Homo sapiens: one gene and its partner. The protein of the gene in region 1 purifies or fractionates together with the protein of each later gene. This does not show direct contact. Each region holds a gene or a part of one and is shown in the gene's direction. Other genes may lie near its edges. The genes, in order: PCTP and TPPP.

Region 1 (3,151 bases):
AGAGACAAAGAATTGTCAGCTTGGAATGCCAGCCTCTCCCTGCTTGTGCCCCAGGACCCCGCCAGAATCACTCTCTGGAACTTCTGGACAATAGTCTGCTCTTAGTAGGAACAATAGTGCCTTTGGAGCCTATATTCCTCTGCTTACTGGGGAATAAGACAGACTGACCTGGCTTGGAGACAACCAGATGTGTCCAAGCCTGAGGAAAGCTTCCACTTTTGTTGTTGTTGCCCTTTTTTTTTTTTCTTTTTCTCTATAAGGGAGGGAACTGCAGTGGTAGTTTGTATCACTAGAGACTGCCCAGGAGCCTGGCATTATGGGGACCATCAGCCTGCTTTGCACAAGATCTACTACTAGAGAGCTCAACAGATTCCTTGGAAGAGTGAAAAAGCACATCAACTTTGGAGTCAAACAGACGCAATTTCAAATCCTGGCTCTGCTACTGACTGTCTTGTTTTATTTAAGGAAGCCATGCATTTCTTCCTTTTTAAAAATGAAGATAGATGTCTTCTACTGCATAGAGGGGGAGTAAATAAGACAATATTTAGGAAAAGTCTTGCCCAGTGCTCAACATTAACTAAATAATAATATATCCTGCTCCTTGATCCCCAATCCTTACCATTTTCTAATTCAGTAAAGCAAGTGCTTTCATTTCTTTGGAAGAATGTAACAATCCAGCCCAAGCCCATTTCTTGTGTTTTCTTTTTTCCAGAAACACTGTTTCAGAAACATCTTCGCTTTTTCCTAGAAAAAGCTAACATATAAGGCCTTTTTGCAACAGAAGTTCCTGTTGACTGGTCTTACTTTTGTCCTCAGTCCTACTTTTTGTCATCATCTGCAACAACATTCTGTTGAAATCCAGTTAGGGAGCCTATTCATTTTTGTTCGTCCTAAAGCCAACATTGTTTACCTTCTGCCACATCCCAAAGAATCAAGAGTGACCACTGTGAAGACATAGAAATGACAGTCTCATTTCCTTTGCAGAATGGAGTTCCTAACTTCTTGAAAGACATGGCAAGAGCCTGTCAGAACTACCTCAAGAAAACCTAAGAAAGAGAACTGGGAACATTGCATCCATGGGTTGATGTCTCTGGAAGTGCAACCACCCAATGTCTCTGGAAGTGCCACCTGGAAGTGCCACCTGGAAGTGTCTCTGGAAGAGCACCCACCACTGTTCAGCCTTCCCCTGCTGTTTCTGTCTTCAGAGGCCTACACACTACCACATCCTTTCTAAGCATGTTTGCCTGACATCCAGCTCACTCGTCTGCTTCCTTTCTCGCTCCCCCCATCCTGGGCTGGGCTGCCTTCTTCTACAGTTCAATATGGGGCAGACTAGGGAAACCTTTGCTTGCTTACTATTAGGAGGGGAAGTCTTCAGTAGGGAACACGATCATTCCATTGTGCAATTTTACGGGGATGGGTGGGCGGAGGGACACAACAAAATTTAAGAATGACTATTTGGGCGGGCTGGCTCTTTTGCAGCTTGTGATTTCTTCCAGCTTGGGAGGGGCTGCTGGAAGTGGCATTTCGTTCAGAGCTGACTTTCAGTGCACCCAAACTGGATGACGTGCCAATGTCCATTTGCCTTATGCTTTGTGGAGCTGATTAGGCTGGGATTTGAGGTGATAATCCAGTAAGTCTTTCCTCGTTCCTACTTGTGGAGGATCAGTAGCTGTTATGATGCCAGACCATTTGGAGAAGTATCAGAGGCCTGACCGGACACATAATATGACAACCACATTTTTCCTCATCATCCATGAGGAAATGGATGATTTCTCTTTTCCATATGTCACTGGGGGAAAGGCTGCCTGTACCTCTCAAGCTTTGCATTTTACTGGAAACTGAGGCGTCAAGATGGCTGTGGCAGCTAGCAAAAGCAAAGATGCTTTGTGCATAGCCTTGTGAAAAAGTATCTTTCTATGCAATAAGATGAATTTTCCTCCCAGAATATTTAGAAATGTAGAAGGGATAACAGTTCACAGCCAGGTAAAATTTAACTGGTGGCTTAATGACTCTGCACCTTTTTCTCAGGAATTCTGCCTAAGTTGTCTGCCTTTTCTACCACCAAAAAGACTTTTAGTTTTCTATGCTTTCTCCTGAATTTTGGTAGGGTAAGGTATTTCTATGTCAAAGGCACAGCCTTGATGATCTCAGGGAAAAATTTTAATCACTGTGTATAATGATACTGAACCTTGATTAATAACAGAAATTCAGGATGTAAAGCCACAGAATGGGATTTATTAATGTGGGATACCTCAGACTGTTTGTTTTCTTTCTGGGAAGAAAAGTGTGTTCTATAATGAATAAATATAGAGTGGTTTTTACTTGTCCTGTGTACCACTTCCTTCCTACCTTCTTCCTTTTGTGAGTGTGCATCAGTTAGATCTCCTTTATTTGCAAGTGATATTCAGCCTAATTTGTAGACTTAAACATAAAACATAATTTTGGGCTTACTTATATGCATGATCAGGTGTAGGTATCTTCATGTAGGGATCAATACAGGTGCTCAAACTGAGATTAGAATTCAGATCGTTTAGTATTGGTCTGCATTTCCTGGTAGCATTGTCGCTAACAGCAATAGGTAGGTTTGCATCTTCCTAGGCTCATGCCAAGCAAAACAAAAAAGACAATGTTTCTTTCTAGTAGGACCTGCACTTTCCATAACTTAGAGCACCTCTAAAACATATGCTTATCTATGCCCTGCTCATTATGGTCATCTGGATAGAATTATACAAGTAAGTGAATGCCTCATAAAATTATCATTAAAATATCATTATCAATAATGTAGCTGAAATCTATTCTAGATAAACTAAATCTGAATACTTCCTGTTAATAGAAGTCAAGTTGAAATCTTATGAATAGATTATTTGAAATAAAAGCACTGAGATTATAGTCACTGAAAGAGAATTGGCATGAAATGGTGTCATGTAAACCATTTCTTTAAATAACATTAAATAATTTGCTAAGAACTCTGAAAATACTAAGAATGCTGAGTTTCTAGGTAAGGTACTTATTTTAAAAGGTTACAGTGTTTGCTGTAATGAATGGAGTTAAGACTTTTTAGCATTTTTACTTGCTAATTTAGAGTAGTGGACAGTCCTCACGAGCTGAGGTTATGTAGGAAACTGAAAACTCTTGAGCTATAGTAAGT
Region 2 (3,318 bases), on another chromosome or scaffold:
GGGTTGGGGTCCGCGGGTCCTCACACCGCACGGCAGGCACAGAGGCTCGCCAGGCCCTGATCCGGTCTGTGGGGACGAGGGACACTGAGGAGAGGTGCTGGGCACCAGGACGCTGCCTCCTGGTCCCTGGTTGGCCTCAGACAAGCACGGCCTCGAGAAAAGAGCCAAGCGCATCGGGAGCACACCAGAAACCGGCCCTGAGCACGAGAAGAGCCTCCGCCCGGCCCGGGCACCACCCGACCTCGCAGGGAGCAGGCCCTGTCACCGACGGGTCACCTCGCCCACACGGCCAGCACCGACTCACCACAGCCCTTCCCAGACCTGGCTGGAGTGGCCGGAGCGGCGGGGCTCATGGCTCCCATCTTGGCCCCTGGAGGTGAGCTCATTCACAGAAGTGGTCCCTTCACTCTGAGAGAGAAAATCGTGGCGTGCATCCCAAACCCTAGGCCACGCCTGTGGGTTTCGTGAATGAGATCGAGGCTGCTGTGGCACCCTGCCCGTCCTGGCCTGGAGCACCCTGGGATCCTGGAGGGAGAGGCCCCACGCCCCCACTCTCCCTCCACACTTCCAGGGTTGGTGCCCACGAGTTAGAGGCACGCCCTCCCCCAGCGGCCCTCAGGCTTTTCTCAGACATGCGGGAGCCAGGAGAGCACCCTTCTCCACTCAGCTCCAAAGCGAATCTTTGAAAACACCCACTCGGCTCCCATCTCTGTCACCTAGCCAGGAGGGGTAGCAAAAATAAAGTCACGAGGACATAGTGGTCACCACTGTCAGTTACAACTTGTCTGTGGAATCCGTAATTGCATCTGTGTGCCGCCTCCGAACACAGAACATTGTTTGGACGGCAGCCCCACTGCACATAACAGACCCGTGCATCTTCCTCAGTCAGTTTCTGAATATTGTGAATTCAGGCAGGTGTGTGTTCTCTTCTGCATGTTTTTATGCACTGCCAATTAGCTTCTACTAACCACGGTTCAACAGAAAATAAATGTGTATTTGTGAATAACAAACTGCACAACCTGCAAACCAGGAGAGAGGGACAGGTTCTGTCAGGGGTGACACCAGGACACAGGGACAGGTTCTGTCGGGGGTGACACCAGGACACAGGGACAGGTTCTGTCATGGGTGACACGAGGACACAGGGACAGGTTCTATCATGGGTGACACCAGGAGAGAGGGACAGGTTCTGTTGGGGGTGACAAGAGGAGACAGGGACAGGTTCTGTCGGGGGTGACACCAGGAGAGAGGGACAGGTTCTGTCAGGGGTGACACCAGGAGAGAGGGACAGGTTCTGTTGGGGGTGACACCAGGACACAGGAATAGGTTCTGTCGGGAGGACAGTGCTGATCGTGTCTCAGCATCAGGAAAGGAGAAAGGCAGAGGGAGAGCGCTGAGAAGACTGTTCACGCCAGAGTGCTTATTTATTTTTAATTTACTGCTATAGGATAAGCAACCAGGTAGTGTTCCTAACAATTAGCGTTACCAAAATTAAAGTTCAAATTATATGTTTAAAATATTGTAGAAGATATATATTTATACTGGACTACTTTTACACCTTCTAATATCCTGTCCAAGTTTGGGCGCAGATGGTGGAGTTGGGCTGGCATCATGTCCTGTGGCCGCCCCACTTGCCTGTTGGTGCCACTCCATCCCGGGCCCCAGGGATGCCAGCTCAGGGCTGACCACAGCAGCCCTGCGTGGGCATCACCTCCTACCCCAGCCCCCATCCTGGGCTGCTGCGGCCGCCTGCTTTTGTGAATGGTGTTTTGTTGGCACAGGGCCTGTCCTGTGTTTTCACACAGGCCTGTGGCTCCTGCTGTACAAGTGGAGTGGGGAGGAGTTGAGATGGAGATGCCTTGGCCCTGGACACTTACCTGTCCCTCTACTGGCCCAGCTCATCTCCTCCTGTGGGCAATCACGCGTGCACTGGCCACCCTCCCACCCCACAGCACACACCACGAGGGGATGGCACAGGGGGAAGATGAGGCTGGACCGTGATGTTATCAATAGGCTAGAACGTCCTTCAAACACTGAACCTGCATCTTTCCTCCTCTTACTACTGAACACTTTGTGAGCTCTGGTGGTCCAGGGTGCAGCGTTTGTCCCTGGGCATGTGATGGGGAGTCCTGGGCACATCGAGATGCTTTACTTCTTTCTTTCGACCTCTTAAAAAACTAAACCAAGCCAAACCACAAAGGAAATCTGCACAACTTAAGAGAAACTTGAAAGGGATCGTGTAACTACTAGTTTGTACTAAGTTTTTTTCAAGAAAGGGAAACAAATTTATATATATATATATATATATATATGTGCAATATATTTTTACACTGTGTGATTAACATTAGGGAGTACTGAGTGCATCACTTTATCAGTGTGACGGGTGATGTCCACGTCATGGCTGTTCTGACTCTGAAAGCCACTTCTGCTGATGTCTAAACCGCACTCACCGCGGACGTCCGCGGGGTGGGGTGGCCCTGCTGTTCCTCCTGCAGGTGAGAGGTGTGGTGTTGCCTGTTGGACTTGCTGTTGAGCCTGGCTTGCAAACCTGTAGTGAAACAGCTCGTGTCTGTGTGCACACTGCTCCTGTGTCTGCTGTCGTTAACATTGTGTGTCAAGTTGGTAAAGTGACAAATAAAGGTGTTAAAACATGGATTTCTCTGTTCCTCAGAGCACACGTGTCTGTAACAGGTGATAACAGGGGATAGGTACTGGAGGGGCCCCAGGTGGGGAGTGTGCTGAGTGCCTCCACTGGGCTGAAGCTCACAGGGCCAAGGCCCTTGTGTCGCCTTTTCCCGAGGGAGTCTCTCGCTTCCTCATCTAGACAGGAGGACCGTGAAGGAGGAGCAGGCGGACCAGCCATCTGTCAGGTGTGAGTCCTGCTCTAGCACTGGTGTAGCCCTGGGTGGGGTCTAGATTCAAGGGGAATGGACATGAACACTGTGAACACCACCAGAGCCCCCAAAACAGGACAATGTCATCACAGGCTGCTATAAAAAAAATGCCAACCTGAGATACTAGCCCAGCGAAACAGTTTTCCAAAATGAGGATACAATAAAGGCATTTTTGGACAATGAAAAGAGAATTTGCCACCAGCAGACATTTAAAGAAATTCTAAATGCAGAAAGCAAAGGTGATCTCAAATGGCATGTCTGGTTTGTGAAGAAAGTGGAGCAAAGAGAATAAATAGGTCAATAACTCCAAATTAACAGTGGCTATATCAATACTTTGTGAGATTAAAATGTTTCATAAAAATACTTGGGAACCCCCACAGGTGAGCAGAACAGGAGCATGGAGAGGGACGCGCGCCTCGCGCTCCAG

Evidence for each region.
Region 2: the proteins of PCTP (region 1) and TPPP purify together in Homo sapiens (affinity purification with mass spectrometry; one large-scale study listed by BioGRID and IntAct). This does not show direct contact.

Annotation. Positions count from the first base shown.
Region 1 is NC_000017.11:55,775,051-55,778,201, forward strand, and holds the end of PCTP (phosphatidylcholine transfer protein), read left to right. Parts: intron 1-260; coding exon of another isoform or gene 261-293; exon of another isoform or gene 294-984; coding exon 985-1,050; 3' UTR 1,051-2,324; downstream 2,325-3,151. UniProt on the Homo sapiens protein: Catalyzes the transfer of phosphatidylcholine between membranes. Binds a single lipid molecule.
Region 2 is NC_000005.10:659,196-662,513, reverse strand, and holds the end of TPPP (tubulin polymerization-promoting protein), read left to right. Parts: 3' UTR 1-2,652; downstream 2,653-3,318.